5 separate regions of the Homo sapiens genome follow, and all the other regions are linked to region 1. Evidence: fine-mapped expression QTL. A gene starts in region 1. Each other region holds a variant in brackets. All regions are shown on one strand. Distances are between the middles of the regions. Region 1 holds the start of VPS41 (VPS41 subunit of HOPS complex). Region 2 has its middle 77 kb from the start of AMPH. Region 3 overlaps VPS41 (VPS41 subunit of HOPS complex). Region 4 overlaps VPS41 (VPS41 subunit of HOPS complex). Region 5 overlaps VPS41 (VPS41 subunit of HOPS complex).

Evidence for each region. PIP is the estimated chance that this variant, and not a neighbour inherited with it, causes the effect.
Region 2: its variant is fine-mapped to the expression of VPS41 in whole blood (TOPMed, PIP above 0.99).
Region 3: its variant is fine-mapped to the expression of VPS41 in whole blood (TOPMed, PIP above 0.99).
Region 4: its variant is fine-mapped to the expression of VPS41 in blood mononuclear cells (TOPMed, PIP 0.90).
Region 5: its variant is fine-mapped to the expression of VPS41 in whole blood (TOPMed, PIP 0.98).

The regions. Positions count from the first base shown.
Region 1 is chr7:38,906,542-38,911,541 of GRCh38, reverse strand. VPS41 (VPS41 subunit of HOPS complex) reads left to right here and starts at 2,351. Exons shown (of 29, transcript NM_014396.4): 1 at 2,351-2,388. The coding sequence starts at 2,368. RefSeq lists an enhancer at 2,244-2,343.
Region 2 is chr7:38,704,928-38,711,491 of GRCh38, reverse strand. No RefSeq gene overlaps it. Among named protein-coding and RNA genes, the nearest start is that of AMPH, 77 kb to the right of the region's middle. The variant A/G (reference allele first, on the strand shown) is at 3,096.
Region 3 is chr7:38,740,400-38,746,963 of GRCh38, reverse strand. It overlaps VPS41 (VPS41 subunit of HOPS complex), which reads left to right. Exons shown (of 29, transcript NM_014396.4): 23 at 1,351-1,405; 24 at 3,422-3,562; 25 at 4,843-4,979. Among named protein-coding and RNA genes, the nearest start is that of AMPH, 110 kb to the right of the region's middle. The variant G/A (reference allele first, on the strand shown) is at 2,762.
Region 4 is chr7:38,726,682-38,733,245 of GRCh38, reverse strand. It overlaps VPS41 (VPS41 subunit of HOPS complex), which reads left to right. Exons shown (of 29, transcript NM_014396.4): 26 at 4,455-4,554; 27 at 4,660-4,704; 28 at 6,258-6,337. Among named protein-coding and RNA genes, the nearest start is that of AMPH, 99 kb to the right of the region's middle. The variant A/G (reference allele first, on the strand shown) is at 3,749.
Region 5 is chr7:38,853,285-38,859,848 of GRCh38, reverse strand. All of the region lies in intron 4 of VPS41 (VPS41 subunit of HOPS complex), which reads left to right. Among named protein-coding and RNA genes, the nearest start is that of VPS41, 53 kb to the left of the region's middle. The variant A/T (reference allele first, on the strand shown) is at 3,897.

The DNA.
Region 1 (5,000 bases):
TAGTTGGAGAATACAAGACCACCTAGATAAGAGAGCCTCAAACTCTCACTTCACATGAGCAAATGGGATTTGGAGGTCACATGTGAATTTCATCCTGTCCACTGTCCCAGCACGAACCTGCTAGTTCATAGTAGGTTTCTTCCTCTAATTCACCTTTCCATACCTGTGTCTCTTCACTTTTCCAGTCTCTCCAAAAGGAAAGAGGCTCATAATACTTTATTGTAATCAAGAGAGTATACTGAATGCGGAACAAACTTGGGGAATTGAGAGTTTCTACGGTTAAATGAGCAGAGGAAAACCTATAAAGTCTGGCTATATCTTTAATAAGACCCATAACACCCTTCTTGAGAAAGAGAATAAACATTCTCATTCCAGAAAAGTAGAAAGGCCAGGAAGGCCCAGAGTGGATGGCCTTCAGCTTTGCTTGCTTGGGCTGCTTGACTTCTCACCAAAATAAAATGGAACCATAAAACAAAAATGACCTTGTGGTTAAGACAGTGGTAATAATCCCTTATTTTCCTTCTTCATCCCAATCTCATCCATTCAGCATAGAAGAGGAGATTGCCCAGTTGGAGAGGCTGTAGTCCTAGAGGTTTATGGGTGGCTGTCACTCATAACAGAAAAGAGAAAATTGGAGTTTGTGAGGAAAGTCAGAAAAGTGGAAGAGCTCATTTTATTTCTCTTTCCCGTGGATACTCGACTGAGGGCTTCCACAGTCTCTTTGGTCTGTATTAAAGTTTTTCTGGGATCTGGAGTTCATCATGAGCAATGTTTGGCCCTGGGCTGCTTTGCAAGAGATTTTAGAAACTCTTGGGTTAGGTTTATACTTGCCCTAGGTTTATACTTAGGGCATTGGGTGCTTGCTTATGGATTTCTTTTTTCTTTTTTCTTTTTTTTCAGATAGGGTCTCACTCTGTTGCCCAGGCTGGAGTGCAGTGGCACCATCAATGCTCACTGCAGCCTTAACCCCCACCTCAGCCTCCTGAGTAGCTGGAACTACAGGCGCACACCATTATGCCCGGCTAATTTTTGGTATTTTTTGTAGAGACAGGGTTTTGCCATGTTGTCCAGGATGGTCTCAAACTCTTGAGCTCATGAAATCTGACTGCCTTGGCCTCCCAAAGTGCTGGGATTACAGGTGAAAGCCACTGCACCTGGCTGCTTATAGACATTTAAATGCCTCAGGGTGGTCTATCCTGTCGGCTGAGTGATTAGCCCACTGGAAGAGGAACCCCAGCAAGGCTTGGAGGAAGAAGATGGAGGTAAGGCTGTTTAGGCCCTGGGGAGAAGACAGGTGTCTCAGAGATGATGTCACCTTGGCTTCTGGGCCATTGAGGAATCATGGGTTGAGCAAGCTACAGACAGAGTACTGAGTCCATGACTTCCTACTGGGTCAGAGTCAATGAGGCACAGGGAGTCAAAAAAGGTACTGAGGCAATCACCACATGCTGCCATTTGCAATGCCCTCTGCTGGTCACCAGCTACTCCAGTGAATGGAAATTGTAAAATGTCTGTCTTTGGACAAGGTGCTGCAGATTCCTGAGGGTTAAGAAACAGAATTCATAATGTTCAGAAACATGGAGAAGGAATCAGTCATTCTGAAGGCTGGAAGTAATACAGTGGTTGTGCAGATTTTGACCAAGGACAACTTCATATTGTGTCTTCACTTGAACATTTACCTATTGAATATCCTCAACAAAAGTTTAACAATTAATTTATTAAACAACAGAGATTTTTTTTAAATCAATGTTCATATGACAGGAGAAGACAAAGTAGCAAGCAAAAATAATGATATTATTTGTTGGCGTATAAATTTTCTCTGACTCTCCACTGCAAAGACTGCTTTATATTCACTGAATATACTTAAAAAAGAGAGAGAAAAAAGGACAAGAACACTTTTAGAGTAAGCAGCATTTGGCAATCACAGAGACTTTGGCATCAGGCAGGGCTGAATTCTATTACTAGTTCTGCCTCTTACTAGCTGCATGACCTCTGAGCTACGGTATTCTCCCCTATAAATGGGGATGATAGTAGGAATTGCTGTGAGGATTAAATGAGATAATTTATGCAAAGCTATAAACCCAGGGCATGACATAGTAAGTGCTTAATAAACACTAGAATAACTAGAGAAACAAGAACAACAATAAAATAAGCTATAGTATTAGCAATGGTTATGTTCACATCCTTCAAAGCAGAATTCCATTGAGTTTGGAGAATTGGCAGCAGAAATGAACCCTAGCAGGTCCGTCCCCTAGAAGAGATTTCCAGGCTCAGATGAAGCTAAAACTACATTTCCCAGAAGGCCCTGGGCCAAGTGTGTGGTTTCCTCTTATTTCCGGGTCTGTCAGGTGACTCTCCCGTGGCGCCATGGCGGAAGCAGAGGAGCAGGTAAAGGGTGCAGGTGGTAGTTGAGGGCACAGGGATATAGAGACTAGGGTGGGCTGTTTGGGGAGGGTGGAGTGGAGTGGGTGGAGGTGCGGAGCTGCTGGAATAGCGCAAGGCAGGTCCGCGGCAGGGCGGGGTGGGATGGCGAAAGTTGGTTTCGGGGAGCAGAGAGGATGCCAGCCCCGGGAGGGCACCTAGGGAAAGCGCTCTGACACACCCCCGCGTTCGGGCTGCCTTTCCTCGGGCCCCATCCCTGTGGCCTTTGCCCAGGGAAATTTTGGCATGAAGGCAGGCCCGGCTACCTCAGGGACTGACTGCCTGTGGGAGGAGGAAGAGAGGCCGGGTGACTGAAATTTAAGTTGCTTTCCACTTGAAGTAGGACAATAAGAACTAGGAGAGAGTAGACGATGAGTTTTGTTTTGTATCTATTGGAGTTAGGTACAGAGCTGGAGCACTGTTGCGGTGCAGCAGGGATTAAATGCATCCGTTCTGGAGCAAAAATGCCTGGGGTCCAAGTGCTGGTTCCTTTTCTTACCCAATGTGCTACTTTGAGCTACTTATTTAACTTTCCAGTGTGAGATGGGGGTAATAATAAGGCCGTCCTCAGAGGGTGGTTTAAGATGGAGAGAGGAGTTTATACACAAAGTTAGAGTACTTAGAACTGTTGGGCTTAGTAAAAATTAAATGGGATTATTTGTTGCTGGTAGTATCCAGTCAACAACTGGCAACGTGGCACTGAAGTTTAGGGTAGAAATTGGTGATGGGAATATGAATTATTTTCATATAGCAGTAGTGGTAATCACACATTTTATGAAATGACGAAGTAAAATAAAAAAGACAAAAAAGAGAAGCAGACCAAAAAAGAGGCTAGAACTTGGGGGAGATAACTTAAGTTTCCATTTCCAGTGTTATTTCAGTTGGATACTGTTTTTCTTCACAAGTTAACAGGGCTGTCAGTTGCAGTCATTGTCTCTAAACAGTGACTTGATGATGGGCTGTTTAGTATCATAAGAGTCATTTACCTAGTTCAATAATTTTTACTATTTTCAACATACTTCATTTGTTTTTACTTCATAGTGAAAATTTGTTCTGTATATATTTTATATATGCCAATAATTGAGACGTTTGACTAGGTAGAAATTTGGTTTGGCTGGTCCTTGTGATAACAAGATAACAAAGTCTCTTATCTAACACTAGAGACTCCTATTTCCATTCTAGCAGTTCAAAGGAAAACACTCATTAAGAACATATCATTTCATGACTGCCATTGCTCCTTTGAATAAGGGTGAGATTGTTTTTCACATTGTGCATCTTTATTTCATGTTGAAATGTTTGTTTTATGGTTTGATTTGAAAGCAAAAAACTGAGTTTCATATGTTCTTAGATATAGTGGAATAGAAATGGAGAGAGTTGCTCCTAGAAAAACCATTGTTTTTTCTTCCATTGAAAAAAACCTATGAAATATTTACCACTGTTTAGTGCAGAAGAAGAATTTAACAAAGTTGTCTGATATAAAAATGACACATACAAAATTAGGGATATAATAATGTTTCACATTTGTACATTATTTTCTAGTTTTAAAAACCCTTCCATATTGCATTTGGTCTTCCCAAAAGAATTCTATGAGGTAAATGTTTACTCTCATACATGGGTGAAACACCTCTGATATTCTAGACTTTCCAGGGGCTTCTAATCTTATTCAGAGGAAAAGCCACAGCCATTACGGTAGCCTGGTTGTCCCACAGGACCTTGACCCAGCTGCCCTTAGCCACCTTTTCTTGACCTCATTTTTCCCACTACTCTCCTTCCCTTCTGTGACTCTGCATCAGCTGTACTGGCTCTCTTAGTCTTCAAAAAGCCAGGCAGGTTCCTATCTCAGGGCCTCTTTGCTCATGCTGTTCCTTTTTGAGGAACCCTGATATTTACAGGCTTCCTCATTTCCTTCATGTCTTTGTCCAAGTGTTCTTTTTCATTGCGACCTTCCCTGACCATGCTTTGAAACCTTCCTGCATTATTTTTCCCTATAATGTGCATCACCGTTTGACATACTGTATTATAAAATTTGTTTTTTTTTTTTTCCCTGTATATTTCTGTGTACCTCTTACCACAGAGCTTGGAACATCCTGACAAGGATTTGTTCACTGCTGTATGTCCAATACCTAGAATATTGCTTGTTACTTAATAAATTTGTGTTAAATGATTGACTTTTACTGATAAACAAATTGAAATTCAGGCAACTTGAGTAACGTGCTCAGGCTTATATCTATAATATAATAAATCTCCAGTCCTCTGTCTCCATAGCTCATGACTTTTCACTAGAATACCCTACCTTTTTAAAATATATGTAAGAACCTAAATCTAAATAGTTTTTTTACTTTATGAAGTAGAATTAGCCCTTTCCATTTTAATGATTTTCCCTCAAGCCACCATTCCACTTTGATGCTTTAACAGCCAATATGTAGTTGGAGTGGGCATTCTCCTCTCCAGTGGTGTCAGTATCTTAAAAAGACTAGTCGTGGACCAGGCACAATGGCCCATACCTGTAATCCCAGCACTTTGGGAGGCCAAGGTGGGGCGATTGTTTGAGCCCAGGAGTTCGAGACGAGCCTGGGCAA
Region 2 (6,564 bases), 200 kb after region 1:
ATGCAAAAGCTTGGTCTATTGAGTAAGGAGACATTAACAGACCTTTGTAAGCAGCGGGAAGGTGAGGATTGTTGAAGAATTCTGCTGACACAGTCTGTTGGAATACAGTTGTCTTGACAACCAAGAATTAAAACCCTTCCAGTGGGCTCAAGTCCATTCACCCAGGAGCTTCCTGATGGTGCAAATCAATCTGTGAGTCTGTCCTTGAACACAGATTCTTTCAGTTTTTTTTTTCTTGTTCCTGCTTGAATTTCTAATGAAAAAGGATATGCCAATTTCTTAATAAAAATGTATCCAAATCTTTTTTATTCCCTGACCAGATATTTCTACACATTGCTAGACTAGTCCTTTCCAAGACATCAACTTTTAGTGTAGTTACTATGCCTATTTTGTGTGTATTTGCCACTTTGCAATCTTGTATGTAGTTGTGGCTTAAGCAAAACCCATCTTTAATTTTGTAAATGTTACAAAAATAAGTTAGCACAGTTGTAAGTCCAAAGGAATACAAAAGGATGAAGATATGATTTCCTGCCTTCCAGAATTTTAGAAATTCCTCTAAATATCTTGAGCAACTAGGATCAATTTTTAAAATGAAAAGAAGGGTCAAATAACCCAAGTAAGAAATCGGCAAAAGATAGGAAGAAGCGATTCACTGTACAGCAAAAACAAATGGCAAAACAAGAGATAGAAAAAGCTCAACCTCACTAATACTTAGGGAAAAGTAATAAAATCTGCCAGGCTGTTGGCAGGGGGACAGGGAACAGATACATTTCTATACTGTAGGTTGGAGGTGTAAATTGATCACAGTTTTTTTTTTTTTTGGAAGGTAACTTGACAACATTAATTAAAATTAAAAATATAGATAGCCTCATTCCAGTAATTCAACTTGTAACTATGTATCCTAGAGAAGTTCTCACACTTGTACACAAAAAGCATGACAGCCGGGCACAGTGGCTCACACCTGTAATCCCAGCACCTTGAGAGGCTGAGGCAGGTGGATCACTTGAACCCAGGAGTTCAAGACCAGCCTGGACAACACAGACCCTATCTCTACAAACATTAAAAAAAAAAAATAGCCAGGAATGGTGACATGCAACTGTAGTCCCAGCTACTCAGGAGGCTGAGATGGGAGGATCACTTGAGCCCAGGAGGTTGAGGCAGCAGTGAGACGTGATCGTGTCACTGCACTCCAGCCTGGGTGACGGAGCTAGACGCCATCTCAAAAAACAAAAACAAAAAACCATGACCAATGATATTGTAAATATCAGTCAGTAAGGCCCACATAAACTATGATTCATGCTATGAAATTCTAGCAAGTACTAAAATGGACCAAGACATTGTAAAGTGTAAGGAAGCAAGCTGGTTCCACTTATGGACAATAAAACAAAGCAATCATGTTCTTTAGGTATGTATACAATCAAGTAAATGCATAGGTATGTGTGTACAATGCATAGAAATAACAGCAGTAAGTTACCTGGAGTGGGGTGAGCATTGATGGAAGAACCGGGAAAGAGAGGTTTTCTTTGGCTTTATACTTTGTTTGTCTGTTTGTTTGTTTGTTTATAAGTCAGGGTCTCACTCTGTAGCCCAGGGTGATCGTGCAGTGGTACAATCGTGGTTCACTGCAACTTCAGCCTCCTGGGCTCAAGTGATCCTCCCACCTCAGCCTCTCAAGTAGCTGGGACTATAGGTGTGTGCAACCACACCTGGCTAATTTTTTAAGTTTTTGTAGAGACAAAGTCTCATCATGATGCCCATGCTGGTCTTGAACCTCTGGGCTCAACTAATACTTTTTTATAAGAATATATTTATACATTACTTGAATGACTAAAAAAATGTATAAGAAGTGTTAAAAGGATCATCAGCAGTTATAGTTTATAGTTGCAGTTATCAGTTTCCTTCTTTTAGTAAGGAGATTGTATCTCTTTGACTCTCTCCTTGGAAGCAAATATTCCTTACGGCTTTGTATCTTCTAATTTGTAGTTGTTCCCTCAGTGTTTTACTTGAGTAAGAAATGAAACTGTCTTGACAGTTCTTCTAACAACAGTTTAATTCCAAGTTCACCCTAACCTGGAAAGAACTCTGTGTTGAGTGTCACTGGTTGGTGTATTTCTTAATTACATCAAAGGAAGATATTCATATCAGCTACTATTTTGATGTCGTTAGGTATCACTGTGACTTTGTAGTCTTGCTTAGTAAGGTCAGAGTACACTTTTAGAATGAATCTTCTGAGGCATTTTTCTTAGAACCAACTCAAGCTGTGCATTTGCCATCTCATCAGGCTCGTGGGTGATGTACTTTTTTAAAGAAGGCGGCAAAACTTGGCTGGCTTTCTTTTGGAAGGCGTGATTTTATTTTCTCAATCTGTGCATCTTGTGACCAGTGTTAGGATGCTGGAAAAGTAGTTAGGATCAATGATTTTAAAAAATTGACTTTTAATTTTAAGCTAAATGAAAAGAGAAAGTAAAATCATGTTTCTGTAGTCTTTTAAAGAAGATAATCTGGAAAATTTCATCAGCCAGCCAAAATCATGATTTTAACAGTGATCTTATTTTCCTGAAAGAAATTTACTGAAGATCTATAAAAATGGTTAGATAAAAATAAAAGAGGGAGGAGAAAATGTCCATTCCAGAATCCTGATCACAGATATGGGTGTAGGATGAGAGAGCATTTTGCAATGATTTTGAGATTACTGACAGCAGGTCTTGGGTCTCAGCATATGGAACGATGTGGATGTGTCAAATGTCTTCTGTCTGTTCCAACTGTGGAAATTCTAAGCTGCTTTGTCCTTTTGCTGTGTTTCAGTCTTATGTACGTGTTACCACCAGCAGCAGCTGTTTAAATAAAACAGGCACACTGAAATACATACAAAATAGGAATGGTCTCCAGTGTTACACTTGTGATAACTTATGATCTGGGAAAGACTCAGATTCTCTCTGACTTCTTCAAGCCCTTCATGGATAAAGAAAATAGAAGAGAAAAGAATGACTTGTAAATGGCCTACTAGAATATATCCCACATGTTTTTCTTACAATATAACTGCCTTGACCACTGGAACATGGCAGAGGTGACCAAGGCTAGGTCATAAAAGCATC[A/G]TGCACTTCCATCTTGTTCTACCAGGATGCTCAAGCTCTAAGACAGCCCAGGTCCTGCATCCAAGGAGGCTCTGCATAGGTGGAGCAGATGACAGCCCCAGCAAAGACCCTAGCAGACAGCCAGCATCAACCACCACACATGAGAGTGACTCCCAAAATCACCAGCAGGGAGCCGGCAGGTCTGGGGTTCAAATCCAGGTGAGTCAGGAGCCTCATAGTAGCCTGTCCCATGGAAAAGCAGAAAAAATGAGTGCTGAGGGAACCTGGGGAACCCTCCACTCTTCTCCCTTTGTTCACCAGAAGAGGAAACTAAGGCCAGAGTGGGGAAGTGGCTCGCCCACCTTGCATAGCCAGAGCAGGACAGACCTGGACAAGACCCATGCTTGGCATTCCTGCTGTCACTCTGGGAAGACTCTATACTGGGAACAGAAGCAGCATCGTTAAATTCCTGCTCATCACTCAGGATCATCGTGGGCAAAACTATTTTTTAAGTGTACAATTCTGTCGCCTTGAGTTCATTTGCACTGTTGTGCAATTATCACCACCATCCATCTCGACCCCTTTCCTCATCCTAAATTGAGAAACTGTACTCATTAAACACTAACTCCCCATTCCCTCCTCTCTCCAGTCCCTGGCAACCACCATTCTACTTTCTGTGAATTTGATTACTCCAGGTATCTCATGTACGTGGAATCATACAATATTTGTCCTTTTGTGACTGGCTTACCATTCATTTATTGATGGTTGCTTCCATCTTTAGGCTGTTATAAATAATGCTGCTGTGAACATTAGTGTATAAATATCTGTTCAAGACTCTGCTTTAGATTCTTTTGGGTATATCCCAGAGCAGAATTACTGCATCCTATAGTAATTCTACTTTGAAATTTTTGAGGAATTGCCTGCACCATTTTACATTCTCACAGCAATGCATAAGTGTTCCAATTGCTCCACATCCTTGCCAACACTTGTTATTGTCTGAGGGTGTTTTTGGTTGTTTTTTGTTTTGTTTTATAAATAGCAATCCTAATGGGTATCATTTGGTATTTCACTGTGGTTTTGATTTGCATTTTCCTAATGAAAGACACTAAGTTTTTGGATGGTTGGTTACCTAGCCAATAGAAAACCTGAACATGAATTAATCACATTTCCCTTTAGCACTGCCTACGATAGACAGGCCTGTCTGTACAGAAATTGTTTATTTATTTATTTATTTAGAGACAGAGTCTCGCCCTGTCACCCAGGCTGGAGTGCAGTGCCACTGTCTTGGCTTACTGCAACCTCCGTCTCCCAGGCTAAAGTGATTCTTATGCCTCAGCCTCCCAAGTAGCTGGGATTACAGGCATACACCACCACTCCCAACTAATTTTTGTATTTTTAAAAGAGACAGGGTTTTGCCATGTTGGCCAGGCTGGTCTCAAACTCCTGGCCTCAAGTGATCCACCCGTCTCGGCCTCCCAAAGTGCTGGATTACAGGTGTGAGCCACCACACCCAGCCAGAAATCTTTTTTTTTTTTAGTCATTCTAGAACAATCTCCTCTGTCTCTCACTCTTCACATCCCTTAGGAGATACTACAGGCTCTTGTCTCTACTTTCAGAAGAACACCCCAATCCACCCCTCCTCTGTAACCCACTACTGCTGCTCTAGCTTAGTTCTTTGTGACTTTACACTTGGATTTAGTGTACCCATGAAGTAATTCTTTCTCAGGATTGACTGCAAAATTGGTTTTTGCAAATCTTGAGAAAAATCAGTGAAGAAATTGAGACAATGGAAAAAAGTATTATAATTCTGTGATGATTGAAGCTTAATAATCAACAAAGAGATCATTACTGTTTCAAGGGAATCCATTGACATTAAGAGCAGGAAACCCCTACAAGAGAGTCAAAGGTTAAGGTCAACATTTTGGGAAATGGGAATGGGAGTGTGGAGGAGGGACGTCATCCTCATCTAATCCAACAGTCTGGCTCGTAGCAGTTGCTGTGTTCCAAGAGTGTACTATGGTCCTATCTGCTGCAAGCAAGGATTCTTGCAAATCATAATAAATATTAAGAAATGTATACCTATGGTTCACTTTACATAAACCTTATGAGGGGGATTCCAAGAAATAATACATTATGAATGTAGAATAAGTCTTTAAATTGGCAATTTTGAAACTTGATTCTGTCTAGTAGTGTTAACCTTGCTAGGAGATCCAAATGTTAGGTTATTTGAATACTACTCACTTGTATTTCCTGATGTTTTCCAGTGTTTGAACATTTGCTGTAAGCTATAGTTGTTTATAAATACTTTAACAGAAGAAATGCGAAGAAAAGAAGCTATGAATATTGTTTTGGAATGCTTCATTGGGAAATTAGAAATGGATAAAAAATCTGAATTAGCAAAGCAATATAAATTATAAATTTCAATAACAAAACCAAAATCAGGGCAAGTAAACAAAATATTTTCATTGCAATGAAAAAAATCCTTTCGTTGGATTAAAAAAGATTAAACTTAAATGAAGCAGCAACTGCCCTAATATCCAACTTCAAGATGCTGTTTGGTGCAGTCTTAATTAACCAATGTCAATGTGAAATGAAAGAAATTTTTTCTACATTTGGAATGTTTGTCATGAAAAAAAAAACTGAGGCTATTAAGTAGGACAATTGGTGTTTGGTATATTTAACATTTCCATTTTAAGAATTAATAACTTTTAAATATTAAATATGGTATTTAAAAATTTTTTTTTGGTGGGGATACGGAGTCTTACTCTGTTGCTCAGGTTGGAGTGCAGTGGCATGATCTCGGCTCACTGCAATCTCCACCTCCCAGGTTCAAGCGATTCTCCTGCCTCAGCCTCCTGAGTAGCTGGGATTACAGGTGTGTGCCACCATGCCTGGCTAATTTTTGTATTTTTTTAGTAGAGACGGGTTTCACCGTGTTTGCCAGGGTGGTTTCAAACTCCTGACCTCAGGTAATCCAGCCGCCTCAGCCTCCCAAAGTACTGGGATTATGAGCCACTGTGCCCAGCCAGTATTTTAAAAATTTTAAGTGATTTTAACAGCGATTTGTTGCATGTTAATATTCTCAGCTTATAATGTTTTATTATCAGATAGAGAACATTTTTACATGTTATTGAAATATATAATCTTGTCACAATATATTGGTCCAATTTTTAAAGCTGTTTATTATTATATCTGTTTTTAGCAGAAAATTAAAATATTTAGTGTATAACCCATCCCAGAAAAAATAATTTACCTATATTATTATGCTTACTCATTATTATTCAAAAACAGGTAAATAAAATGTTTTGAAAATGACAGAATAGCTTGTGATTTGAGGAATTCATGACAATTCCAGGGAGTTCCACAGTTTTGTTCACAAATCCCAAAGACTAATCTATTGGGAATTTGGAAACACTGCTTGGCCTATAGCAGCCACTTCCTGGCTGGCCTTGCCTTTGTTTTCTGCCACATTCTGTCTGTGCTCCTCCCT
Region 3 (6,564 bases), 170 kb after region 1:
CTGAGAGCACCATGCCGCGGGGTCAGAGACCGGGGCTCCTTCCTCTTGTTCGTCCACCTTGGGTGACCTTGACCTCATGACGTAAGGTAGTGCCATCCAATAGTGGAGAGTCAGGGTAAGGGAAGCATTTCAGGCAAGGGGACGCAATGGAGAGGTGAGCAGAGGCAGGTGAAGCTGCACAGAAATTAAGGGCTAGGTTGTGGATGCCTTGTAAGTCGTGGTAGAGATTCTCAGCTTTAAGTCTGAGTGGAGCGATGCAATAGAAAGTTTTGTAGGCAGGGTATGAGATAAGGTTTCCCAGGTGCACTCATTCATCATACTGCACCCGGTTCAGATGCCACTTCCCCTTGAAGCTTCTCACAAGAGGACCACACAGTTTCAGTGTCCCTCCTCTGTACACATGGCCCTTTGTTCATGTTACTCTAATCGTGGAATAATGCGTTGTCACATCTCTGTCACTTCCTGGACCCTGAGCTCCCGGGGGTGGACTCATGCTGCTAATGCTCCTACTAAGCCTCCTCCATTATTCTCTTCTTTGTTTTCCTCTTACCTATAATCATCACTAACATTTTTATTATTGTCATCTTTGCATCTCTATCTAACCTGACCCTCTAGCACCCAGCACAGAGAATATAGTAAATGTATCCTGATTAATTTAGAATTAGTAAGTAATTTATCAATATATAGTAGGTCTTTTTTTTTTTTTTAAGACTAATGGAAATGCTCTCATCTGCATAGTTGCTCCTTTTTGGATCCTTCTTGATCATCAAAAGTGTTTTTTCCTTCTCACCTTTGACAGATCCTTGAGCAGAGTTCTCTTTCAGCCCCTGTGATCTGGCAGTACAAATATTCCTAGTAAATTCAATCATTCATTCGTTCATTCATGCAGCATGAATTCATATTTCCTGAGCTTATGGTATGCACAATACTAGGAAAAGTTCAACCATGAGCAACATTCCTTACATCTTAATGGAGGGAAACAGAGCTTAAACAAATGACTACAGATTTGGAAGGAAGCAGTGCTGTAAGGAAACCTGAAGTAGTGTAAAGAGAGAAAGCTTAGTGGGAAAGGCCCTTTCTTTTCATTTGGTGTCTTGTTTTCTACTCTTGCTCATGAAATGTTCTGAGTAGCTTCAAATATGTTTTAAATTGAATTGTGTAGAGTCCAGTACCTCTGAGAGGTAACTGAGTGCAGCTATTCTAGGGAGATGTGTTCTTTATTTGTTTGCTTTGTTTTATTTTTAAAGAAGCTGTGGAAAAATTCTTTCAAGTGTAAGTTTAAATGACTTTATTACTGTTTGTTCTTATTTGGTCGCCTATAGTAACATTTTTACCCTGCTTTAATTGAAGGCTCTTGAGATCTGTCAACAGAGAAACTTTGTAGAAGAGACAGTTTATCTTCTGAGTAAGTAGCTTTTATTCATTTTGGTCCCCATAAACTAAGAAATGGGATGACAACATGAAGTAAATTGTGTAAGAAAGGACATAGGTTTTAGACCAACGTAACACAGAATATGAGCCTATTTTTACAATAATTTAATATATGAAACAGACTTCACAGCACAGTAAAGAAGGAAGAGTTGTTTCATAAATGTTGAAATAACATATTGGCAATGTATAATCAACATATCAAAATTTATCAGTTTATACCTCACAACATAGATTAAGTTGTAGATGAGTTGACAAGTTTTTTCATTTTCTAAAAAATTATAATCAGCTTATATTACCATCATATTGGTAGAAAATAAATAATCACTTTTAGAAATCACACCCTAAATAACTAGAGGAAATGCAATTGAATACCATAGTTTTGGAGAAGGAGGAGAGCTTTTTAATATAATCTAGGTGTCAGTGTTCCTGGTCTTCTGGCTCCTACCTCCACATGAGTCACAATTTTTGTACCATGCATACCAAGAAACAAAACTTGTCATCTTTTCACATTCTTCCAAAATGAGCCACGTGCATGACAACAATGTGGGTTGTACTGAGGATTGCATAATGTAGCATATAACATAACATTCATATTTGGTGTTTCTCCATTGTCACTTCCCTGCTGACCTCAGTAGGGTTTTTCCGCTTTACGCCTTTCCCTTATACAGCACTCACTCTCATTGGCCTCTTTGCCTCTGTTGAAAAATAATCCAAATCCTCTATTCCCTTTTATGTGTATGCAGATTCATGGGTGCTCAGCCACAAACCCAGAACTGTCCAGTTATAGCACCTGCCCTTCTTAGGAGAAGTGCTTTTGGGGCTGCATTTTGTTACTTCAGCATGTTCCTGGGGTTCTAATCACAATTTTAGGTAGCTCATCAATTCACTAATTCCAAACAGTGTTCTCCCCAAGAAATATTTTGGTGGAATAAATTTTTGTCATATTGTCTTAGAAGCAGTAGAGGACTTATTAGGGACATATAGTCTGATTTTATAAAAACTTGATAATCCTGTAAACATTTTTAAATAACTAACCATTTTTAGAGACATAAACTGTGGAAATAATATTTGTAAGAAACACAAAATGCTGTGGAAGGGGTATCAAATGGGATATCATTTCATTCACAAGCCAGCTTTTATCAGTTGATAATGGCCGTGTGCAGGGGGAAGGATTCAAGATCCTTTACTAGTTCCTGCAAGCCCAGAGACAGGGGTAAGGGTGACAACCTACAACCAGGCAGTTGTTGTCCCTCCACTGAGTAAGGCTTTCTTACATGCACTATATTAAAAACTCATGGAAAACTTTAAACTATTAAAATGCCATAGGTCA[G/A]TGAGCAAAGTATGTAAAGACAATTAGCCAATAGAAGGCATGGTTGATAAATACTTTCATCTCATGAGGGTTATTGAAAGGCCTTCCCCTGAACGTGGGAGAGAAGAAAATGAGGAAGCCCTCTGATAGTTGAGTTTGCAGTTGGCACAAAGTGTATCAGAAAAGCAGTATGCACAGCTACCTCATGAGGCAGAATGACTTTAGGGCCTTTAAACATTTTAAGTGTATCTGCATGTGAAGGTATTGACCTCCAGAATATATATAAGTCTATCAAAAGTAAGTCAGAGTATGACAGACCTGGCTTCAAATTCACAGTGTACTATTTAGTAGCTGTATGATCTTAGCAAGCTACTAACATTTCTATTTCCTCTTCTATAAAAGAGGAATATTAGTAGAACATGCCTCATAGGGTTGTAGTGATGGTTATATGATGTCATTTATATGAGGCACTTAAATGAGTACTCAGTACAGAGTAAATATCCAGTAAATAGGAGATACTTATTTTGCTATGTTATAGACAGTAAATGTTGGTGTCACATGAGAAAATAGCCTTGTCTTAGCTTTCCACCTATGTAAACAAATTAAGAGATATGCAATTTCTTTAAAAAAATTATTAAAATACCTTAAATGAACTCTTTCTCCCATCTTCACCCCACCAAGGCCGAATGGGTAATAGCCGAAGTGCCCTGAAGATGATTATGGAGGAATTACATGATGTTGATAAAGCAATCGAATTTGCCAAGGAGCAAGATGATGGAGAGCTGTGGGAAGATTTGATTTTATATTCCATTGACAAACCACGTAAGCATAAAAGCCATCTCTGGTTATAACTTTTTTTTCTCTCAGTGTAACCAGTTATGTCTAGATTAAAAACTATTTCAAGATACATTGGGTTAAGAAAATGGTAGCGTACCTACAATAAAAATAGGCCAGGTGTGTTGTAATGATTTCCAATACTCCTCCTGTGCTGGAAAACCTGGAGCCTCATCACTTTGCATTACCTGCATGTGATGAAGAACAGGTGGCTACACAGTTTATTAATTGTGTCCCCATGAGGCATATTTTTACCTGCTGCAAGCAAATTGAATAAATGTCATCTGGGTTGTGTTGGTGTGGTTTTTTTTTGTTTTTAGCTTGTATATGGGAGTGTTTATAGTTTAAGTGTATAGACCTTACCAGTCTTTTTTGGAAACATGTAACTGTTCTGGACATTGATGATATTTGGATGTTTGTGTTGTAGTATTTAGCCTCTTTCCTGCACTATTTTTATCAGTACAACACCCAGAGTTTGTATTTGTTGGTCCTCAGCTTGACTGTTTGCATTGGGTCTCCCATTTTGGAAAGGAAAAAACAAAAGCAGTCACCTAACAGAAACCCAACTCTTTTGAAAATAACTAGCAGTAGTGATTTGAAATTTCCTCTTTCCTTTTTTTTTTTTTTAAGTTTGGTAGGAAGTCTTTGTGTTCATGTAACTACCTTAATCTGAAATTGACTTTAATAACTATCCTCTTGACAATATAAAGAATCTCACTTGTAACTAGCAAGATAAAGTAGTAGTTTAAGGATCTCAAGAGGCAAAGTGATGTGGCAGAACATATCATAAACTTGAGGCTGGCCTGAGTGAATTTGGGCACATTACTTATTAGCCGTGTGACCCTGGAAAAATTAAACACCCCATTTCCCTTGTCTGTAAAATGGGGACACAGCATTCCTACCTTGCACAGTATTTGAGGAAAGTGTATATGATACCTGAGCCATAGTCAGTTGTCAATAAATATTATTTACACCCATTTGATGCTAAAAACTGTATTTTGAAGGCAAGTAATCATTTGTTCAACTGTTTTAAAACAGTTCTTATTTACTTTCTCCTTCATGTCTTAAGGAGCGTTAGTTCTTGGAAGTTTAGAAGATTAATTCTTAAGAGTTTAGAAATTCAAATGGTTTTAACACTTACTTTGAAGGAAATAATTTTTTCTTTGAGTTACTTTTGATCTAAAATTGCATTATATGCAAATTATGTGCAAATAAAATTGCATTATAATGTTGCTTATATGTTCATTGTTTTATGTGGTATTTTGTAGCATTTATTACTGGCTTGTTAAACAACATTGGCACACATGTTGACCCAATTCTACTGATTCACCGTATTAAGGAAGGAATGGAGATCCCCAATTTGAGAGATTCCTTGGTTAAAATTCTGCAAGACTACAATTTGCAAGTAAGTATCCTTTCTTGGACAAATGAGCATCTGAATTAGTTGACTTAGTACTGGATAAATATTTCTAGGGTTTATGTTAGGTATCAGTTAAAAACTTTCGATTTTATGGTTACATTTTATTTAGGCCCAGATATTTAGAAAACTGTTCAAATAGAGTAATTAGAAACATCACCTTTAAAATTGCGTTGTCCAGTAATACCTTAAAGGCCTTAAGAAGGCTATTTGATTCTTTAGCCATCTCCAATTTTCACTTGTTTTTGAGCAGACATTCTTACATTTGTATGGTTAATATAACATGGAATCGAGGCGAGTATGAAAGCAGTTATAGTGGCCATTAGATCGGGCCACCCCAACATTTTTAGGGAGAATAAGTATTGTATCCGTTTGAGGGAATTAACAAAAATGTTTTTCAGTAAGGTAATAATTTTTCTTGAAGCCATTCAGTAGTCTGTTGCCTGAAAGCTGTTAAAATATAGGATTTTATTTAACCTTTTGTCTGTTTTCTAGAATAGTGCAACTTTATTATCCTTGTTAAATCAGAATTTGTCATAAGAACAGTGGAACTCATTATTTTCATATAAATTATTATACTAATTACAAAGCATCTTAATCTTTTCCTTAAAAAGACTCTAGCAATTACTATTTTTCAGGATGCTGGTAACTTCTATAGAACTTGAATTAAAACATTTCCTTAAAAATTCGGACTGTTGTTCTTCCTCTAATTTACTTGAAAATGAGGTTTTATTAATAATGGATGAAATTACTTTCCTAGAAACAATTTTTGCAGGTAAAGCCAAAAGAAAAGGCTATTAGCTGAGGAGCATTATGATGTGAGATCCATTGGGCCAGGATTCACCATGCAGGTTGCAAAGTAGAGGTCTGCCTGCACTCAGGGTGACAGCCTTAGGTAAGAGGCAGGGTGGAAAGGAGAAGATATTGCAGGAACATTGGTGGCATCAAAAACAGATGTAAGAGATGAAAGGGATGGCAGAGCTGCAGGGACAAGAGGTTGTGCCAGAGAGTGTGATGTCATTAATGTTTCTGAAGCGGAGTCATGGTGTATACGTGTTCAAAAAGTGGGATGATGGTAAAGGTCATTTGTGTAGAATTAGTAGAGAAACTGAGGCCACAGCCTTTCTGAGTCATCCTAATGGACATGAAGGCCAGGAGGAAGAAACAAGGTGCTCTAAGCCAGGCTCCAGCTTCTCCACAGGGGACAGTAGTATTAACTGGACAACACGACTTTAAAAGTGAAGAAGTCTAAAGATGGGGGTGGGGGTGTGAGAGATCATGCAGCCTTCACTCCGGAGAGCTTTGTGGGAAATTGGGTTCATGGGAGAGAAATTGGTATTCGTTAAGCCAAAGAAGTAGATTACCTGTTCCGCAAAAAGCTTAACGATATATAGGCATATATTTCCAGTGGGATTTGGAGGTTTGCAGATGACCCAGGAGAAAGGTTATTGGAAGGAGAATGAGAAAGTCAAGAAGGAAATAAAAATATGGGAATGGGTTAATAGGCAAAGAGAGGTGAGGTGAGGAGCTGGCTTTTCATGCCACGCCCTAGGAATCCAGAAAGGTGACGTCC
Region 4 (6,564 bases), 180 kb after region 1:
AGAATAGACCTATAATCATTAACTAAATTACATTGGTAGTCAAAATGTATAGCTACAATAAAGGCACTTATTCCATAGACAGTTTTAGAGACAAGTTTTATCCTTTTAAAAAATAGCTGGCTGGATACGGTGGTTCATGCCTGTAATCTCGTCACTTTGGGAGGCTGAGGTGAACGGATGGCTTGAGCTCAGCAGTTTGAGATAAGCCTGAGCAACATGGTGAAAACCTGTCTGTACTAAAAATACATAAATTAGCTGGGCGTGATGGCTCATGCCTGTGGTCCCAGCTACATGGGAGGCTGAGGCAGGAGGATCACTTAAGTGCAGGAGGTCAAGGCTGCAGTGAGTTCTGATCATGCTACTGTACTTCAGCCTGGGTGGCAGAGCAAGACCTTGTCAAAAAAAATTAATTAAAAATAATAAAACTAAATAAAAAGCAGCTTCTGTGTTACATTTACTTTTCCAGATAATTGAATGGAAAAGTTCCTCAGTTCCTTATGGAATGCTAGTGTAACCCTAATACCAGCATTACGTGAGGGCAGTATGAGAAAATTATAGCCCTATCTTTTTTTTAAAAACACAAATGCAAAAATAATACATAAATCAATAGCAAATTGAACTTGACCATTTATTTAATTGTTAAAAGTACATCCATATCATAAATGTTATTAGTTCTCCCTAAAATAATCATCTGTATGTTCAATAAAATTTTAATCAAAATATCCAAAGAATTTTTCATGGAAATTAATAAACTGGTCCTAACTCTTAACATAAAAATTAAGAGTAAGATTATTATTCAAGAGGGAAGATATTTTTATTAGATATCCAACTTAATATGTGGGAGTATAAAATGCTATATAACCACTTTGGAAAACTGTTTGTCATTTACTTGAAAAATTAAACATACACCTACTCCATGACCCAGGAATTTCACTCCTAGGTATTTACTCAAGAGATGAAAATCAGTTCCATAAAAAGATCTGTACAAGAATGTCCTTTGGATTTCCTTAGTAGCCCTAAACTGGACATAACCTCAGCATGCATTAACAGGAGAGTGTACCTCAGGGTTGTTGCCTCTTGGTGACAAAGTAGATGCCGTATCACTAGGCTTTACATCCACACTTCATATGGCACATGCGGGAAGCAAGGGGTTTTTTCCTAATGAGGCTTTGCTTTTTGATTTGAAAGGGCTGCTTTCCCAGGCTTGATGTTTATCTTGTTGACCAGATCTATGTTACATGAGCCCCAGCCAGCTGTATATTTCAGCTGGACACACACTAAATGAAGTTGGAGTTGTGTTTGAAAAGAAGGAGCAGGAATGGTAGAGGGCAAGAAAGTGTCAGCTGTGTCTGTAATACTTTATTTTCTGGAATGAGATCTGAAGCACGTGGGAAAATATCAACAGATTTGTTAAATCTAGGTGGTAGGGACTGGGTCTTTTTTTGTTTTCAGTTTTTTTTTAATATTTCATATTTTAAAAAGAAAAATAGCACAAAATAATGAAAGATAGTGCTCAGATCAAGAGCAGCAGTGCTCAGTGCCATTCTGGTCATCGAAACCTGAGTAACAGAAGAGTGTGCATGTGCCCTAAGTATGTAAAGAACATCACATTTGCAAGTTAGAAGGGAGATGGGGAAGGTGATGATAGTCTGTGGTTGCGAAGATAGGCTGGGTAAGATGACCTTGAAACATAGCAGTCATCCAAAATCATGAGTGTGAAGGTCAAAAAGAGGTGAGGATGACCTGCTTACGCCAACTGCTGTGGCATCTGACTTTTGGCCATCAGTGTCTTTATAAAAAAGACACTCATGGGAAATTGCAAGTATGAATTTTTGAGGGTGAAATGAATGTGAACAACAGCACATTTTTCATGAGTCACTGATGGAGTTGCTACTAGGAATCCATAGTCAACATAATGCCTTGTCCTATGTCTGATGTTGAAAGCAATACCTGTAGATTGTAGTACATTATAATCTTGTACTGTCTTCCTTCACTTATCACCTTTAATTGCCTACACATTATTACAGATGTTATAGAATAAATGATTACATTCTATAGAGGATAGTCTCATATTTTGAAATACCTGCCTGGGATCATATAAATGAAACTTAAAATGTTTTCCTGTTTTTCTGATTGGGAGCCTTGAATTTTGACCAAATGAAGTAGGAGATAGCAGTAAGCTGTATTTGTGTACTTTCCCCTCTCCTGGCTGTTTGCCTCTGAATAATGAATTTTCCTAGAAAATGCTATCTGCAGGCGGACAGATTGTACCTGTTTAGAAAAATGTAATCCTGCTGAGGATATGGCTCCTTCCTGGTTTGCATATTTTGCTGTTTTCTTTTTTAGCTTGTAGACACAGTGGCCTCTGTCTAGACTGCTGGCCCTGCCTTTCTCTTATATAATTCATGCCATGGGCCTGGAGCACCCACGAGAGTCAGAGCCATTTTTTAAAATTGTTTTATCTGAGATGTTGTGGTTGAAACCATTACTCTTAAGTTTTTTATTTTTGTCTTGGAGGCTAAGCAGCTTTATATGTTTGCTTTTAAATTTATTTAAAGTTTCCTGACATCCATATTTCTTAGCTATCTTTCTTACTGTATTTGTTATTTTTCTCTTCTACCTGTATGTTTTAATGCAGTCTGTTAAAATTTTAATGTATTTTTTTAAAAATCCAAAAAAAATTGATTCCTGGTAGAATTTTAAAGAATAAAACTTCATAGGCAGTTTCTCAATTAATGTAGGAATACTAAAATCATGTAATTTCCTGTTCATCAATACTAGAAATGGCAGGCATAGAACTTTAATCTAGACATTAGTTTTGTTTTCCTGAATATTAATTTGTCTTTGTATAATTAGGGGAAAAAGGCTTTCGGCTGGATTCACCCAAAGCCAGTGCTCTTTGGGATTTTCAGAGGAACACGTGGACCACTGAGGATAGAGGGCTGCAGTTGGCTGCTCCCTTACTTTTCTTCCCCAGTGGCATGAATTTAAAACTTATGAAAGCAAAATGCCCATCTAGCTTGTCAAGTCGAGAGTGACTTCAGTATGAAGAAAGCCAAAGTGCCCCCTCTAAACAGTGGCACTTGCCCGTGAAAGACACATGCTTCTCAGCCTCAGAGCTGGGCTGTGGTGAGACAGCGCTGTCTGTTAATGTGAACTTCTATGATGTGACATGTGTAACTGCACATAACTGCGTATGATAAGACACATAGGGCCCAAAGGGAGAAGCCACAGGCACAGCCCCAGAGCGTCTCTGTCCTTCAGGCCTTGAGTTTCTCCCTCTGAAAAAGCAGCAACAAGTTCTGGTTAAAAAAAAATAATAATAATAAATGAAATGACATCTGGCTTATGCACACCTCCTGGAGCCTCTCAGTTTCCTACTAATACCTAAGAAAACCCAGCAAAGGGTGGGAGCTCACACTGTGCCCCACAGAATGGACATGAAAGGTAAAGTGTCGCCTGTCCCTGCTGTGTCCCCACCTAAAAGCAGGGGAGGATCTTGGACCCCATCGTGCCTCCAGTTCTGAAATACAACATTGGTACCAGCCAGAAATGGGCATCATCCTCCACTGTGTGCTTCTGACTTCTGAGGCTGCCAAAGCATTGTGATGTCTCTTGTCATTCTCCAGGCAGGAAGGGAGGAAATAGTAAAAAGCCTGCAGGGGAATAAGAAAAATGTGTAAAGAAACAAAAGCTATAATGCTGGGATGAAGAATAAAGAAAAGGACTCTTATGAGAGAATATTTGT[A/G]TTCATGGTCATTTTTCAAACCCCTCCCAGGAGTCACCAAATTTGAAGGTTATTATAGTCAGTTAATACCACACACACACACACACCACATTCATAGCACTATGCTGAATGGTTTGGATTAGATTTGGAAAGAAAAAGATAGGTTGCATCCTCAAGGGGATTTAAGACAGAGATTGTATCTGTTTAGTTTATTATCTATACCCAGTACCCTATACGTGATAGGGACCCAGTACTTATTTGTGCAGTAAATAGATTAATTTATGAAATAAATTGATGATTTTGGAATAGCAGGTTTTCATTCTGGGTAAAGATCTGAAGAATGGAATGAACACATGATGTAGGAGCCAAAGTCTGCCCAAGAGGATCTGTATAAGGAAGCCCTCTAAAGTAGCAATAGGGTTAGTTAATATAGGGCCTTCTTTGCCAGACTTTGGAATTTATGTTTGATTATACAAATGCTACAGGAGCCCGTGTATGGTTGGAAGAAATGATGAAATGACGCACAGAGTAATGAGTGGATCCTGGCTGGCCAGGTCAGCCTGGCAGTGGTTTGGCAGGAAGAGGGTACTGAGGGCAAGAGAATCAGTGAGTGCCCCTTTTGAGTATTTCAAGCATGCCAGCTTTTGGAATCCCCAGTACAGTGTCCCTTCACCCCTCAGATTTGAGTCTACTTAAGATGGCTTTTCTTTTAAAATGTATGCATTAGATTCTGCTTCGTGAAGGCTGCAAGAAGATTCTCGTAGCTGACTCTTTGTCCTTACTGAAGAAAATGCACCGAACTCAAATGAAAGGTGTTCTTGTTGATGGTGGGTAAAATTGAAATAATCATATGGAACCACGTGCCCTGCTTTCAGAAATGGCCAAGCAGGTATAAACAGGGCATAATCCAAAGTATGTGTGTTTTCTTACAGAGGAGAACATCTGTGAGTCGTGCCTTTCCCCTATTCTTCCATCAGGTAAGAAGGTTTTCCCCAAAAAAATCCCAAACATGTATTTTAATGATGAGTGGAATCAAAATTTTGGAATTAGCCAACTACCGTTTATAAAACTATATAACTTTCAGAATAACCCAGTGGAGAGAAGTGTTGTGGCTTCCATCCTGCTCAGTGGAATGCTGGTGCTGCCATTGCTTAGAGCTGAGGTTCTCAAGCTCTAGGGTGAGTCATCGTCACCTGGCAGGCTTATTGGAACCCAGATCGCTGACCCAGTCAGACTCCCTAGAGTCTCTGGTTCCAAACTTCCAGGGCAGGAACTGAGAATGTATATTTCTAACAAGTTCCCAGGTAATGTTGATGCCACTGGTTCAGGGGCCCTTCTTTTAGAACTGCTAGTCTAGGGTAAAAACAAAATGAAAACTAACCATCAGCATTTAAATTTCAAGGTAGAAGAACCATATACATGTCTGGGAAAAAAAATTTATAGGTAGCATTCCCTTTTCTTTAGTGTTTTTCTCTGATATATGGTTCTACATGCCCAAGTCATCTCACATTTCAGTGGAAACATACATAATCCCTGCCATCTAATTGGAACTGTGAGTCTTTAAAAGACATAAGCATTTGTTTATTTCTAGTTCTTGGCAGATAGATATATGTCTTCATCTGTAATGAAAAGCACCTTCTTAAGGTTTATTATGACAGAAGAAATTTGCATAATTCAAAAGCGGAAACTAACAAAGCATTGTTAGGATGCTAACAAATGCTTTTCAAATATAAGTTCAGCATAACAAAGTACTAAAAGACCTAGTTGACCTCATGTTTACTTAGGATTAAAGGATTATTTCATGGGGCAGTCCATGAGAAGTTGTTCTACTTAGGTTCTTTTCTAGAGGAATTAGATTTGGATGTTTAAGTGCTTCTGTTGAAAACTGCATGGGCTCAGGTGAAGAAGTGAGCTTCCATAGCATTTCAGACAGTGTTGCAGCAAAAAGGAACCACATACATTCCCACTCTACAGTTAGATTTAACTCCAAATTTACTCTGCTGATGACACTAAATCTTACCAAAAATAAGCTGGCCACACAGAGCAGGAACAGATGAGGGGATCTGCCCAAGCACAAGTGCAGTAAAATGCAAGGTCACCACAGCCTGGGCTTGTAACCCAGGTCCGCCTCTGAGTCAGTGTGTGGTCTTGGCAAAGGTAGCAGGTGGACTGGCAAAGCATTTTTATGAAGCCACAGACTCAACTTCAGCTGTGGTGTATAATGATTATAGGGGTTAGGGGCGCATTGGCACATACACTTGCTGGTTTTCCTACAGTTGTCCTCAATGTAGTCTGGGTAAGTGACACAGAGGCTAAGCAAGTAACCTGTGAATCGCATAGCAACATGATTATAATACCTGTTTTGTGTCTGATCATACCACCCCTCAGGAATGCTTTTGTAAATAAGCCATTCTCTAAAGGCACCTTATTGCTGAAAATTAAACTGCAACTCGACTTTCAGTCGGGATTGGTTTAAAATGATCTTGCTTGTTGCATTAAGTTCTCCTCCTTTCTCTGCCCTCCTCGCCAGATGCAGCTAAGCCCTTCAGCGTGGTGGTCTTCCATTGCCGGCACATGTTCCACAAGGAGTGCCTGCCCATGCCCAGCATGGTGAGTTGGCAGCTTGGCACCTATCAACTAGAGGGAAATTAACACACTTAGAGGAATGTGCTTTAAACTGTAACCCTTCATCCTTATGGCTGTATGGGTTAAAAAAAAATTACAATGTGGATTTATATCACATAACAAAAATTAATCTAGTTTTCAAATGTAAAAATATTTAGAAATGTTCTATGTACTATAGTAAACATAAAAGCATACCCATTTGAAGGAATTCA
Region 5 (6,564 bases), 52 kb after region 1:
ATAACGTGACTTCAGAATTCTTATAAAATCTTAGATTCCTTTTAAATTCCCACGATATTTATGCCCATATAACCACATTAATCATAGTATAATCATGCGTCGTTTAACAGTGGGATGCATTCTGAGAAATGTGGCGTTAGGCAATTTTGTCATTGTGCAGACATCATAGCCTCTACTTACACAGACCTAGGTGGTACAGCCTACTGTACACTTAGGCTGTATGGTATAGCCTGTTGCTTCTAGACTACAAACCTGTACAGCATATTATTGTCCTGAATACCATAGGCAATTGGAACACAATGGCAAGTATTTGTGCATTTAAACATACCTAAATATAGAAATGATACCATAAAAATATGGTATAAAAGATGACAAATGATACATCTGTACAGGAGACTTATCATGAATGGAACTTACAGGACTGGAAGTTGTTCTGGGTGGGTCAGTGAATGAGCAGTGAGTGAATGTGAAGGCTTAGGACAGTAGTGTACACTACTGTAGACATTATAAACCCTGTACACTTAGGCTAAACTCAATTTATTTAAACATTTTCTTTCTCCACTAATACATTAGCCTTAGCTTACTGTAACTTTTTTACTTTATAAACTTTTTAATTTTAAAACTTTTGACTTTATAATAGCACACCTTAAAGCAAGCACATTGTACAGATGTACAAAATATTTCTTTATGTATTTATTCTATAAGCTCTTTTCTGTTTAGTTTTTTTTTTCTTTTTTACTTCTAAAACTTTTTGTTAAAAATGAAGATACAAACACACACATTAGCCTAGGCCTACCCAGGGCCAGGATCATCAATATCACTGTCTTCCACCTCCACATTTTGTCCTGCTGGAAGGCCTTCAGGGGTAGTAACGCACATGGAGCTGTCATCTCCTGTGATAACAATGCCTTCTTCTTGATACCTCCAGAAGGACCTGCCTGAGGCTGTTTTATGGGTAACTTCTTTTTTTATAAGTAGGAGGAATATATTCTAAATACCAATAAGAAATATAGTATAGTAAATACATAAGCCAGCAACATAGTCATTTATTGTCATTATCACGTATTATGTAGTACATAATTGTGTGTGCTAGACTTTATATGAGTGGCAGCTGACTAGGTTTGTTTACACTAGCATCATCACAGACACGTGAGTAACATGTTGTGCTGTGCTGTTACTAGGCTGCAGTGACACAGAGTGTTAGGAATTTTCCAGCTCCATTATAATCTTTTTTTATTTAAATGTTTAGGAAAAGATAGCTTGTAAAGCATTACAGTCTTATAGGACCACTGTAGTCTATGGTGTAAACCAAAAATAAAGTTCTAAGCTCCTCAGTCTACTGAATGGACTCCTCTTAGGATTCGTGAAAAACTAGTTCAGGCCATGACGGGAAGGGGGAGTCAGACATGCCTCATTATATTCTCTTCTTTTTGGAATTCAGGCACAACTGACCGGCATTAACATTAAGATACAGATCTTAAGACTGACAAAACAGACTCTTTGTAGTGTGAAAGGAAATAAGATACCAGATTCCAAACTGACTCTAATATAGCATCACATGACAGATAGCAAGCCCTGAAAGAAGTCAAAGTATTTTGCCCTAATATATATTTCTTTGGCATATTTTGAAATAGCTGTGCAAAGCTGTCTCTTTTGGGGAAAATTTACATTCTGTAGAGAATCCCCTTCCCTTTCCAGGTCTTTTTCTGATCCTGAAGAGAGTAGCTTAAAGGTCTGAATAGGAAACGTTTGCCGTATATTACCTCTAAGGGTGCCACCTATAAGACTTCTTCTACATAGTAAGAACCTTGGTCTTCACAACTCCTTATCGTAACCCAGGTACTCCTTTCTGCTGATTCTTTCTGCTGATAACTTAACTCTTTCAACCAGTTGCCAGTCAGAACATCTTTGAATCTACCTATGACCTGTAAACCATCCCTCTTTCCTCTCATCTCCTCTTTGAGTTGTCCCACCTTTCTGGACCAAACCAATATATACCTCACATGTATTGATTGATGTCTTATGTCACCCTAAAACATAAAATCAAGCTGTAACCCAACCACCTTGGGCACATGTTCTGAGGACCCCTTGAGGCTTTGTCATGGGTCATGGTCCTTACATTTGGCTCAGAATAAATCTCTTCGAGTATTTTACAATTTGGCTTTTTAGTCAACAGTGGGTATATGTGGTCTCTTGTTGACCAAAATGTTGTTATGTAGTGCATGACTGTAGTTACTTTTTCTTTAATAGCCTCCAATTTATTTAAGCATTTTAATTTAAAACTTGTTAATTAAGGGTACTTATGTTGAAGCAGTGATCAAATTATTGTGCCATGTCTCTGTTAAATATTTAGGAGCATTATGCCATGTGTTTTAAATATTTATTCCTTTAAGTGTGCTAGTGAGAGAGCAAACAACTTGCTGATCAAACATAAATTTCTACTGTTCACCTTTATGTGTTTTTCTTTCTTTGCTAGAAATAGAAAATGATGAGGTTTTGCTGTAAGGCACTATAGTAAGAGACATTATATAAATATTTATAAAATGGATGATTACAAAAAAAGGAGATTAAAACAAAACAGGAGCTTAGTGGCCATTTTGTGTTAAGATAAATATCAAATTTTTGAAATTAAACTCTTGAGGCAGAGGTGGGTTGATGATTCTCCTTGTCAGGTAGCAGAATCTATTGGTATTTCTATTCCTGTTTTTGATTTGAGATTAAACTAATGGACTGTATTCCTTAGTTGCTGATACCTTTCGTGTTCATGTGCTGATAAAAACCCAGACCTCTGTCCATCTAACCATTGTGTCTCTGAGAACATTTCACAGTTCTTTGTTACTTCCCACATCAAGTCCTAACTATCTAGCTAAGCATTCCAGACCCTGATCATTTGGTGAAACCCACCTTTCTAATCTTAGTTTTAATTTCTTCCCTCTCTAGTAATTTTTATCTGCTCACTACCTTCTAAATATTGCCATGGGCTTGCCTGTTTCTAAGCTTTTGATGACTTCTTTTCTCTCTAGAATACACTTCTGTGAATCTCCATTCTTTCTGCAAGGTACTTCCCCTGGATTGTAGCCCTGAGGTGTTTCCTTCCTGTAAACTCCTATATTACTACTATTTCACTTGTAGTGTGGCCCCTCATAGTGTCAGTACCAGCCTCACATTCCTATTTAACGTCTTGGAGGATAGTTGCCATGTCTCCTGGTATACTTCTCTCCTCTTCCCCACCCTTTCTCTTTTCTCTGCTGCCGTTTGGTATCCAGTAAGTATATATTGGCTGATAATATTGTTTTGAAACATAACCATGGAACTGGTGATTTTCTGTTACTACCTTTCAGGAGGCCTCTGGGAGCTGGTTCTCTGTTCTCCTGTGTATTATTCTACCTTCACTTGTCCATTGGATGTATAATTAGAAATTTTATACTGAGAGCTACTGTAGACTGAATTCTTCCCCACCTCCTAATTCATATGTTGAGGTCCTAACCCTCAATGTGATGGTATTTAGAATTGGGGACTTGGGGGGTAATTAAATTTAGATGAGGGCCAGGCATGGTGTAAACTCAGGAGGCTACGACAGGAGGGTCACTTGAGCCCAGGAGTTCTAGGCTGCAGTGAGTTATAATTGCACCACTGCACTCTCTAGCCTGGTTGACAGAGCAAGACTGTGTCTCTTAAAAACAAAAACAAGTTAAAAACAATTTAGATGAGGTCATGAGGGTGGAGTCCTCAAGATGAGATTAGTGCCAACATAAGAAGAGACAGGAGAGACCTTCCCTTCCTCCCCCTTCCTGCCGGCCATATAAGGACACAGCGGGAAGGCTGTCTGCAAACCAGGAAGAGAACCCTCACCAGAATGTGACCATACTGGCAGATTGAGGACCTCCAGTCTCCAA[A/T]ACTAGGAGAATTTCTGTTGTTTAAGCCACTCTATGATATTTTGTTATGGCAGTTCAAGCTGACTAATATAAGATCAGAGTCTTAAATCTTACTTTTGGAAAGTAACCCTTATGTTCAGCAGTATTTAAGTTTTTAATATATACTCATACATTTTCTAGTTGCTATGGGTAATGTATAAAGTCATCAAAGTTTAGAAGCTAAAGAGACTTTAAAAGATCATTCCAGATGCAAACGGTATCAGGGAAGGAAGTGTGTAAATTGGGCTTGAGCTGTTCTGGTTATGTATTCCATGCCCACTACTCTTCCACCCTTATCTCCTTGTACATTCAAGACCTCCCTTATGTAGCGAAACATTCTTATTAGGGCACTTCCCTAACCTGAGTTTCAAAACATGTTTTTGTGACTGGTTCCTCATCTGTGAGTGATGATGGTTTCATTTTTCTCCCTGGACTTTGGGACTCGACCATCTTTTGGACTGTATTGCTGACCTTTTGTTGCTTTCTTTGGCTGCGAAGAATTTATTTCTAATATAAATCAGCTCCTCTTTTCTCTTTGCTTTGGATTGATGTATGAGTGTCTGGAGGATCACCCATCTCTTTTTTCATGTTTCAGCAAAAGAAATGATCATTTTCCTTCTCTCCTCTCTCTTTGACAGTATCATCGTGAAGATTCAGTGTTCCTTTAAGCTGCTTAAATTTCATTTTTAGTATTCACAAACACCTTTTTTTTTTTTTTTTTTTTTTGAGAGGGAGTCTCACTCTGTCAGCAGGCTGGAGTGCAGTGGCGCAATCTCAGCTCACTGCAACCTCCGCCGCCCAGGTTCAAGTGATTCTCCTGTTTCAGCCTTCCCAAGTAGCTGGGACTACAGGCATGTGCCACTATGCCCAGCTAGTTTTCATATTTTTAGTAGAGACAGGGTTTCATCATGTTGGCTAGGATGGTCTCGATCTCTTGACCTCATGATCCGCCCACCTCGGCCTGCCAAAGTGCTGGGATTACAGGTGTGAGCCACCACGCCTGGCCCACTTTTTTTTTTTATCCTTTACATGGCTTAACCATCTCCTTCTTTGTGTTACCTCCACTTTGCTTTTTTTTTTTTTCTCCACTTCTTGAACGTACGGTACTTTTGTCACAATTATATGCCTCAATGTCATTTTCCACATAGAATGCTAATTTCCTGAGGACAGTTTGTGTAATTTATCTCTGCATCATCAGTGCTCAACATAAAAGCTGGTGAACTGATAGAAATAAGAAATTGATAGAAGTTCGCTGAACTAATCCATAGTTCCAAATCTGCAGTTTCACATATTTAGACTATTTTCCAGATAATCAAGGTTTTTTTCATACCTTCCTCTCCCATATCAGGATTATTGTGTGTACATTATAGGAAATTGTATGGCCATGACCATCTCTTTGACAGTTAATACAGATGCCATACATTCATTATTCACCTAAACAGCCTAACTCTTTTGGGCTTATTCATAATGTGGCCAGTGTGATGTTGGGTGACTGTTCATTGAAAGAATCTTTGGAGCAGATCTATAAACTTAAGCTATGTATCCTTGAACAAAGAACCCTGCTCTACTCTTGGTCTAATGGTACTCACTTATCGACCTGAAGCAAATACCATCTGTAGTATGCTGTTCTAGATGTGGCATCATTAATTGGCAAGCAGGGCATGTATCTTTTTGATATGATCAAAGTGGTTCATTGTTGGCTCAAGTGTGCCAGTGCCTGTAATACTTGTTTAAGACTGATTGACAGGTCTCAGATTCTTGTGTGTTTAAAGAACTTGTTTTCTATATTTGAACCCCGTATTTTGAGTGATAAGAGATGTGTCAAAGGAATTGAAAATTACTTAAATGGAAATCATTCTAACTTCTGATAAATGATGCCAAGGCAAGTCATATTTCCAGTTGTCTGCATTAAAAAATAATCTCAAGTTTGTGGGTTAAGTATTTATAGATAACTTGATAATTTTGATGGCTTCTACGCACCAAAGTGGCTAAGAAAACATGGTCAGAATTAAGGATGCTTCTCTCTTTTAGAGTAAAGTGTCATACTTACTGAATGTTTTAACATCTGACCCTTCAGTGGTAACTACATTTAGGCAAATATCCCTTAAATAGCTAAAACTGAAAATATTCCTTCACTGAATGAAATTACCCTGGTATTTCACATATTTCAAAGTCAGGGTTGAAGTAATTTTAACTTTGTGGAACATGACTCTGAATTGGGTAGTAGACTGGGGCTTAGTTGTCTGAAGCCTTTGGATTTCATTCTTCAGTACAGGGTACTCTCAGTTCTGGTGGTTCTTTCTTTGGGGTTCAAGGCCATTATTGCAAAGTAAGAGCTTTAAAAGGATTATGAATAAGGTGTAGACCTAGGGGAGGAATCTCCACCTTTGCAGTTGGGAGACAGGGAACCTGTAGAAAGTGAAATTTGAGGTGAATCTGGAAAGGTGAATGTGTATTTTCCAGGTTGTTAGAGTGGAGTTAAGACAGTGATACTTTTTTTTTTTTTTTTTTTTTTTGAGAAGGAGTCTCGCTCTGTCGCCCAGGCTGGAGTGCAGTGGCGCAATCTCAGCTCACTGCAAGCTCCGCCTCCCAGGTTGATGCCGTTCTCCTGCCTCAGCCTCCCAAGTAGCTGGGACTACAGGTGCCAGCC